Regions from separate parts of the Homo sapiens genome. Here all the other regions are linked to region 3. The links come from fine-mapping of genetic effects on gene expression. A gene starts in region 3. Each other region holds a variant in brackets. All regions are shown on one strand. Distances are between the middles of the regions. Region 1 has its middle 86 kb from the start of LINC00299. Region 2 overlaps LINC00299 (long intergenic non-protein coding RNA 299). Region 3 holds the start of ID2 (inhibitor of DNA binding 2).

Region 1 (2,802 bases), 270 kb before region 3:
AGACGCACTTCCTGCTGCATTGAGAGACTTTTGGAAGGTTCGCCTTTCCCTCAAATTTCTCATGATGTTGAAGAACTATAATCGCCACTGAATGGTCCAGTTTAGCACAGAGAAAGCCAACCAACATTCACCAGCAGACTTTAAATGCTGACAGTTGAAACAGCCAAGAAAAGTTCATTAAGTGCTAAGCAAGAAAAAGAGCAAGAAAATGAGACAGAATCGCTCCCTGGGGCATTGCAAAAGCAGGCCTTTGTGAGGAAACATTCCTGAAGGAATCTGGGGAAATGACATTGTAAAACTGCAACAGACGGCAGGATAGGACAACAGGCTCCCAAATAACTGCATGGCACCACACCAATGCTCCTTGTGGAGGGAGAGCACATCACAGAGCCCCTTGAGAGGCAGGCTGGAGAAGGCTGCCCCAGCACACCCGAACATCAAGGCGTTTTCAAACTTCTCAATTTTCTTTTCTTTTCTTTTTGTTTTGTTTTGTTTTGGAGACACAGTCTCTCTCTGTCACCCAGGGTGCAGTGCAGTGGTGCCATCTCAGCTCACTGCAATCTGCCTCCCGGGTTCAAGCAATTCTCATGCCTCAGCCTCCCAAGTAGCTGGGACTACAGGCACACCACCACACTCAGCTAATTTTTGTATTATTAGTAGAGACAGAGTTTCACCATGTTGCCCAGGTTGGTCTCGAACTCCTGGCTTCAAGCGATCCACCCGCCTCAGCCTCCCAAAATACTGGAATTATAGGTGTGAGCCCCCGCATCCAGCCTAAACTGTTTCTTTAAAGACCATTTGTACTCCCCTTGCCTCAGCACCAAAGGGAATGAGAATTCAGGGAAGCATGCCTCCCCCCTCTCAGTTTGCAGTTGAAAACTGGTCAAGAGGAACCAGGTACATTTGGGTTTTTTCTAAAGAAGCCAAGGATAAAAACCATGGCCACTATACCATGGACAGCTTTGAAATGAACAGAATTGTTTTCACACACAGGACCAGCCAGAGGTAAATGTGCCTCTTCAAAAAATGTGGTGTCAATGCAATGTGCAGAAACTGTCAGGGGTGGGGGAAGGGGACTCTAAGTAGGATGGTCATATCCTGTATTGTCCACACAAGGTCATTTTTGAGAGCAGAAGGAGAAGTTACTACTTACAACA[C/T]CTGGACAATTCGTTGCAAACCAGCGCTACCCAGGCAAATAAGTGAGTCTGGCCACCTCACCCTGAGTAACGTACTCTGTGAACAAATTGCTGAGGTGAGGAGAAAGAATATCTGGGTTGTAGAGGCAAACACATACTTTTAAAAAAATAAATAAAGAGGCTCTCTCTGGACTTAGTACTTTGACTTTTTCCTGATGCAGTTACAGTCCAAATCACATAGGCATTTCTTATCAGCAAAAGCAGCCAATAAAATACAGAAGGACCGTGAGAGAGATGGGCCAGAGCTCTTGTGAAAGTCTTTCAACACACTGGCGGGCTTCTGCCAACAGGAAAACATTTAGCAAGAGGTGTGCAAGCTATTTGTAGATACAACCCGATCATTCAAAGGTAACTATGATCTGGCACACAACAGCATGTACCCTTTAAAAATAAGCCCATAAAAGTGAAGCTTTGCTTCACATGTCTAAGTGTTTCTGCATTATATATATGATGAATATATATATATATATATTCCAATCAGGTGATTTTGAAAAAGTGAGAAACAGATATATTACCTGGGCACTGGAAATGCCCAGGTTCCTCAGACTTCAGAACTGGCTGAGCCCACAGCACTGCCCTTGCCGGCTACTTCAGGGACAGGTGATTTGAGGCAAGCCTTCTTCAAGTCTGCACCCCAAAAAAATCACCTGGAAAAATCTGAAGTCAGGATAACTACAGTTAAAAAAAAAAAAAAAAAAGCCCAGCAGATAGTGCGAACAAACAGACAAACAACAAAAATCAAGAGTGTTGTCTTGCAGCAGGTTCTTCTGTTCAGTGGCCAAAATTTTACTCCTGGATCCTTCATTTTAAAAATTAATAAATATGGCCAGGCGTGGTGGTTCATGTCTGTAATTCCAACACTTTGGAAAGCTGAGTGTGTGGATCTCTTGAGCTCAGGAGTTCAAGACCAGCCTGGGTGACATGGTGAAAGCCCATCTCTACAAAAAATTCGAAAGTAGCCAGGCATGGTGGCATGCACCTGCCTGGCTACCCAGCTACTCAGGAGGCTGAGGTGGGAGGATCAATTGAGCCCAGGAGGTCCAGGCTACATTAAGCCATGATCACATCACTGCACTCCAGCCTGGGTGACAGGGGGAGACCCTGCCTCAAAAAAATAAAAATAGACCTAAGTCCTCTTGACTCATCCTCAAATGCAAACCTAAAGGAGAAAGGGGGCTTCCCGCCCACCTCAGATCTCCACTTCTGTGCAGCCACCTCGCAGTGATGCTCCTGGTGCTGGAACATAATGAGGGGTCATGAGGAAGACATTGTCAAAATCCTCAGAGAGGGAAGAAGGAGTGGCTGCCTCCCAGCACAGAGGCCAAGTTGCAAGTTGACGCAGCCTAGCTGCGAGGCAGCCACACAGGCACACGGCACTGGGTGGGAACAGTTGGCCCTCTGGGCTCAGCACACCTACTGGTCTTGAGCAAGTCCTTCATCCTCTGGAGACAAGCTGTGACTTGGCTCATCTCAGATGGAGACGATGCACAAAGAGCAGGTTGCTGAGCACTCAGTGCCAGACAAGCCCACCAATTTTTAACATTGTGTTAAAAACTGTGTATTCTGTGTGTTCTGGGTGTGTGACCCACAAAGAAAATGGAAGCTC
Region 2 (2,638 bases), 380 kb before region 3:
AGCTGGGACGGCCCATCAGAGTTGTCCCAAGTTGAGGCAAGAGGGCCGAGCCTTTGCGTTCCTTCCTCGGTCAGTTTCAGAACCTGGGGGATATGACCTGAAAAGAGGCCATTCCCTGCAGCAGGAGGGGGCATCCAGTGCGGGCTCTGCCATGGCCATCATCAACTGTCACTGCAGCTAGCGGGGAGACCTGGGCAGAGCACCCCAATGGTCACTGCAGCCGAAAGAGGACTGCTTGTCTTTCTGCTCTCACACCCCTTACCTAGGGAAGAGCAGAGAAAGGGTTGCTTGAATGGGAGGAATAGCAAAGAGAACAAAGAAATCCCAATGAGGGGAAACCTCTCAGCGCACCAGCCTCACTGTGTGCTGAGAGGCACCCACTGCCTTCCCTGCACTCCTTAGATCTTGTTCATGGGTGGTTGTTTGTTGTTGTTGTTGTTGTTGTTGTTGTTGCTGTTTTTAATGTAAGAAACAGAATCTTGCTGTGTTGACCAGGCTGGTCTCAAACTCCTGGCCTCAAGCGATCCTCCCCCCTCAGCCTCCCAAAGCACTGTGATTACAGGCGTGAGCCACTGCATCCAGTCTCATTCATCTTTTTGTACCATATTCTCTGTCCCACCACTCAGAAATATCTCAGGTGCTGTACTAGTGCCTTACACATCCTGGACCCTCAGTGCTGTCTCAAACTCCTGGCCTCAAGCAATACTCCCCACTCAGCCTCCCAAAGCACTGTGATTACAGGCGTGAGCCACTGCATCCAGCCTCATTCATCTTTTTGTACCACATTCTCTGCCCCACCACTCAAAAATATCTCAGGTGCTGTGCTAGTGCCTTACACATCCTGGACCCTCAATGCATAGCATGGTAGCACCAAAAGGTGTGAAATACAGAAATGAAATCATTAAGTGAGTCATTCATACCCATCATGGTTATTTATACGGTAATTTATATGGTCAAGCTTGACCGTCTTGGAGGGCTGCTGTCATCACAAAGCAGAACAAGGCCCACCAGGACACCCTGACCTCGTGCAGTGAGCCGGCCCTCAGGCTTGCACAACAACAACCCCCAAACACTGGCATGTTCCCAGCTGAGCCAACATGCACCAGACCCACCCAAACGTGGCCACATCGGAGCCATCTAGAAACCGATTTGAACACTGCTTCTTGTGGTGAGGGACAGGAAACCAAGAGGACACAGGGGGC[C/G]GTGTCGAGGTTAACAGGGAGGGCTGCAAGCCCAGATCTCTGGTTTCTGTTCCTCTCCAGCGTTCATCCTCTCCTACTGTTGTTAAAAATCAAATGTAAGATGCAGAGAGCCAGTCCAGGCTGTCCAGAGGACAGGGCTGAGCCTCGCTCCCCACTCCATTCCCAGGGCCTAGCACAGGGCCTGGCACAGAGGCCATATCACAAGTCAAGAAGGAAATCTTTCCTTTCTGCCAACCCTGGATCTTCCCAGAGAGGAGCCCTGTGTCCTCTTGAGGGCAGGATGGGTGGTCAAGGCAGGGACGCGGTAAAAACTAAGGTCGTACACCAGCAAGCTATCGACAAGCATTTAGAAAGCTGTGTCTCAACCAAGATAGTTATTGCAGCTTTATTTGTGTTATCAATAGTCAAAAAAAGGGGGGGGGGAAGACAACTTACTCTGAGCCCTAGGGTGCCTTGTCATAGGAGGTTCTGGGGGTAGGTACACAGTTACTATTTATCCCATGAATAAAAGGGTGGATGGAAATAGGCCAGGAGTTGGGGAACTTCACACAACAAAATCCAAACTGAATGATGGTGAGCCAAAACACAAAAATAACACAAAAGACCCCAAATTGTTACTGTATTTAGAAATAAGACCCAAATTATTATAAAAAATTGTCAGATTGCTACAAGGCAATTTTTTGGGTGCTATAAAAGGCCTCTGGCCCAGGGGCCTAACAGCCTCCTAAAAGAGGATATCAGGAAAAGCAAGTCGCTAAATAGAAGAAAATAAAAGAAAAGGAACTCGTCAGTCAAACTGCATCCTGCCTAGCAGGGAATCCACACACTCAGGGAATCTCAGATCCCAGGACTTCAGACTGAGATGGACTCGGTGTCTCTGGCCAATGAGAACCAAAGTCCTTCACACATCATGCTCCCTGAGACAAGAAAACGTAGGTATGCTTTAGGGGAAGAACAAAAACAGACAAGGGCAGTGGGAGTTTTGATTAGCATAATCTTTACAAATCCTTGCTTTGGAATTCCAGCTTGGCCACCTACTACATCATTTGGGCAAGTTTCTTAACCTCCCAGAACCTCAGTGTCCTCATCTGTAAAATGGCAATTATGAGAACGCTACCTACTTCATCACAGTGGCGTAAAGACTTACTAAGATAATTCCCGTTAAGTGCTTAGCACGTCGCCCTCCAAGCAGTCTGTTATTTTTCTGATGTGTCAATGTCACCATTCACCTGCTGTGCAGTTTTGAGCAGATGATGAACGCATGTGTCCTCCAGGAGCTCCTTCTGCGACATCCCCTAGGCAGCCCGACATGACTCAGCAACACGGTGCTAGGGCCAGATCCCTGGCTAGACACCGAGGTGTGGGGCCCTCGTCTCTGACCTGCCATTGAGCCACAGTGTGAAGCCTAAGCAAAGCCATTTCTCTAGGGACCTTGG
Region 3 (2,802 bases):
TCAGGAAGGTGAGCTCCACCTCAGTGCCACCCACTCTGCCTCCCTGGAGAGGCGTCATGGGGCGCATAGCTGTCACGTGACGGTCAGAGACTGCTGGCCCCACCAGCTGAGAAATTAATCATTAATTGAAGGAAAAAACACTGTTTCCCCATTATCGAGCTTTTCTTTCAGCTTCTAGGCCTGCCCCTTCCGCTTTCTGAAATGCAAAGGAGGTAGAGATTGAGGCAGAAAGTAAATAAGATTTGAATATTGCCTTTCCTGGAGTTTTCTAGTTCATTGTTTTCTGGAGCAAATATTTTCAAAAACAAGAAACTGACACACTGTGGTCAAAACAGAATTCTAGATAAGCTACAATTATGTGAAAATTAAGGTATTTAAGTAAATAGCTGCAAACTTTTTAAAACTTAGACTGAAAGAACGAGTTCTTAAAAGATTTTCAGCCAAAAAAAAAAAAAAAAACCTTGAACCCGTATTCAGTACTAGTGCTGAAAAGATTCCAAACCTCATATGACAGAATATTTTTTTTTCCTTAGTGTGAAGATGTCTATCAATGGCTAGGGCCACCTATCTGTCACAAAGCTTTGGAACTCCTCTAGGTGTTGGAATGTGACACCAGAAATCACAATTAGTGCATAATTAATCACATTACTTTGCCACCTACACGGAAGGGCACAGACCGGCAGCCTTTCAAGGGCAGTGTATGTAAATGTAGTTTCAATATGCAAATTCTCCTAATTATTTCCGATTAATACGATCATTATAATAGCCCTGCCTCCTTCTTGAAAAGGAACCCTGAAAGCGCCCTGCCTGTGAGAGCTCCTTAGCGACCGGTGAGGTTGGGCATGGTTTGCAATAAGTACTCATTTTCTTGAGTTTACAGTAATGCCTCCCGCGCTGCTCCGGGTTGCAAAAGCCCACACTAAGCCTGTCGTCGAATGCGTGCGTGGGTGGTTTGTTTGTGTTAACATAACTTTTCCTTATCTGAAGAGACGAACTCACTCTACAAACGTGACTCTTCAGTGACAACCTAATTTGCGTTTTCACTTTCTTCTGAAATGCTTTCTATCTTTCCTCACGCTCTCCCTCCGATGGGTTGCAGTGAACTGTGGCTTCCCCCCTGCGGTGCTGAACTCGCCCGTGTAGCTGTGATTTTAGAGCTGCCGACAGCTCTAAGGTGTGTAGGGCTTGGTCTGGGAACACCCCCAGGGCAAGGGTCCCGCCGCGCGCTTGGAATTAGAATTAAGAATGCATATTTAGGCGCCCAGGGTCTGCCCCCTTCTCCCTCCTCCTTCCCCTCCCCCTTCCCCTCCCCCTTCCCCTCCCCCATCTTCCCTTCTCTTCCTCCTCCCTCCTCCTCTCCCTCCTCCCGCCTCCCTCCTCCCCGCCCCCCGCCCGCCGCTCCCCGCCCCCCGCCCCCCGCCAGCCCCGCACTTACTGTACTGTACTCTATTTACCACCCCAGCTGGGCTCGCGCCCCGCCCACCCCGCGGGGATTGGCTGCGAACGCGGAAGAACCAAGCCCACGCCCCGCGCCCGCGCCCACCAATGGAAGCGCCCGCTCGTCTTGATAGACGTGCCACCTTCCGCCAATGGGGACGAAGGGAAGCTCCAGCGTGTGGCCCCGGCGAGTGCGGATAAAAGCCGCCCCGCCGGGCTCGGGCTTCATTCTGAGCCGAGCCCGGTGCCAAGCGCAGCTAGCTCAGCAGGCGGCAGCGGCGGCCTGAGCTTCAGGGCAGCCAGCTCCCTCCCGGTCTCGCCTTCCCTCGCGGTCAGCATGAAAGCCTTCAGTCCCGTGAGGTCCGTTAGGAAAAACAGCCTGTCGGACCACAGCCTGGGCATCTCCCGGAGCAAAACCCCTGTGGACGACCCGATGAGCCTGCTATACAACATGAACGACTGCTACTCCAAGCTCAAGGAGCTGGTGCCCAGCATCCCCCAGAACAAGAAGGTGAGCAAGATGGAAATCCTGCAGCACGTCATCGACTACATCTTGGACCTGCAGATCGCCCTGGACTCGCATCCCACTATTGTCAGCCTGCATCACCAGAGACCCGGGCAGAACCAGGCGTCCAGGACGCCGCTGACCACCCTCAACACGGATATCAGCATCCTGTCCTTGCAGGTAAGACCTGCTCCGGGGTCCCCGCCCCGCCGCCGCACACTCCCGCGGTCGTCTGGGCTGTCACTAGGAGATCCGTAGCCCAGACGGTGACTTTCGTATGAGCTATTTAACTTTATTTTCTTCAGAATCTGCTGTAGATTGAGCTGTGCGTGAAATTGCTAGTAAGTTCTGACATGTTAATGCGTCTGTCTTTAAATCTGAATTGTTACCATAAACGTGTTTAATGGAACTTGCTGGTCTGTGGACTACAAAAAAAAAAAAAAAAAAAAAAAAACCCTTTCTACTTAACATTGTCTTAACCTCGTACTCTTTATCCTCTTTCTTTCCAGGCTTCTGAATTCCCTTCTGAGTTAATGTCAAATGACAGCAAAGCACTGTGTGGCTGAATAAGCGGTGAGTGTTTGCTTGTGCCACCCGTGGGTAAACTGCCCCTCGGTGTGTGTGCGCGCGCGCGCATGTGTTTTTGCTTGTGTATCTATAAAATGTCTGATTTGGTAAATGCATGCTTACTTCGCGGTGTTACCCGTACTACATTGTCTCACTAGACATGAAGGAGCTTGTAGCTTTGGGTGCTCGAGATCACAGAACATTTTCCTTTAAAAGGAAATGATGCCAATAACTTACTACGAAGGCGGCCGAGGAACGTGTGTATTGGCTTTGTAGCAAATGTAATGCCCTGG

Evidence for each region. PIP is the estimated chance that this variant, and not a neighbour inherited with it, causes the effect.
Region 1: its variant is fine-mapped to the expression of ID2 in whole blood (TOPMed, PIP 0.97).
Region 2: its variant is fine-mapped to the expression of ID2 in whole blood (TOPMed, PIP above 0.99).

The regions. Positions count from the first base shown.
Region 1 is chr2:8,412,564-8,415,365 of GRCh38, forward strand. No RefSeq gene overlaps it. Among named protein-coding and RNA genes, the nearest start is that of LINC00299, 86 kb to the left of the region's middle. The variant C/T (reference allele first, on the strand shown) is at 1,158.
Region 2 is chr2:8,302,527-8,305,164 of GRCh38, forward strand. All of the region lies in intron 2 of LINC00299 (long intergenic non-protein coding RNA 299), which reads right to left. Among named protein-coding and RNA genes, the nearest start is that of LINC00299, 25 kb to the right of the region's middle. RefSeq lists an enhancer at 1,352-1,571. The variant C/G (reference allele first, on the strand shown) is at 1,203.
Region 3 is chr2:8,680,392-8,683,193 of GRCh38, forward strand. ID2 (inhibitor of DNA binding 2) reads left to right here and starts at 1,665. Exons shown (of 3, transcript NM_002166.5): 1 at 1,665-2,122; 2 at 2,452-2,515. The coding sequence starts at 1,775. The coding sequence ends at 2,508. ID2-AS1 (ID2 antisense RNA 1) reads right to left here and starts at 1,472. Exons shown (of 4, transcript NR_110154.1): 1 at 1,436-1,472. RefSeq lists enhancers at 864-1,367, 1,855-1,904.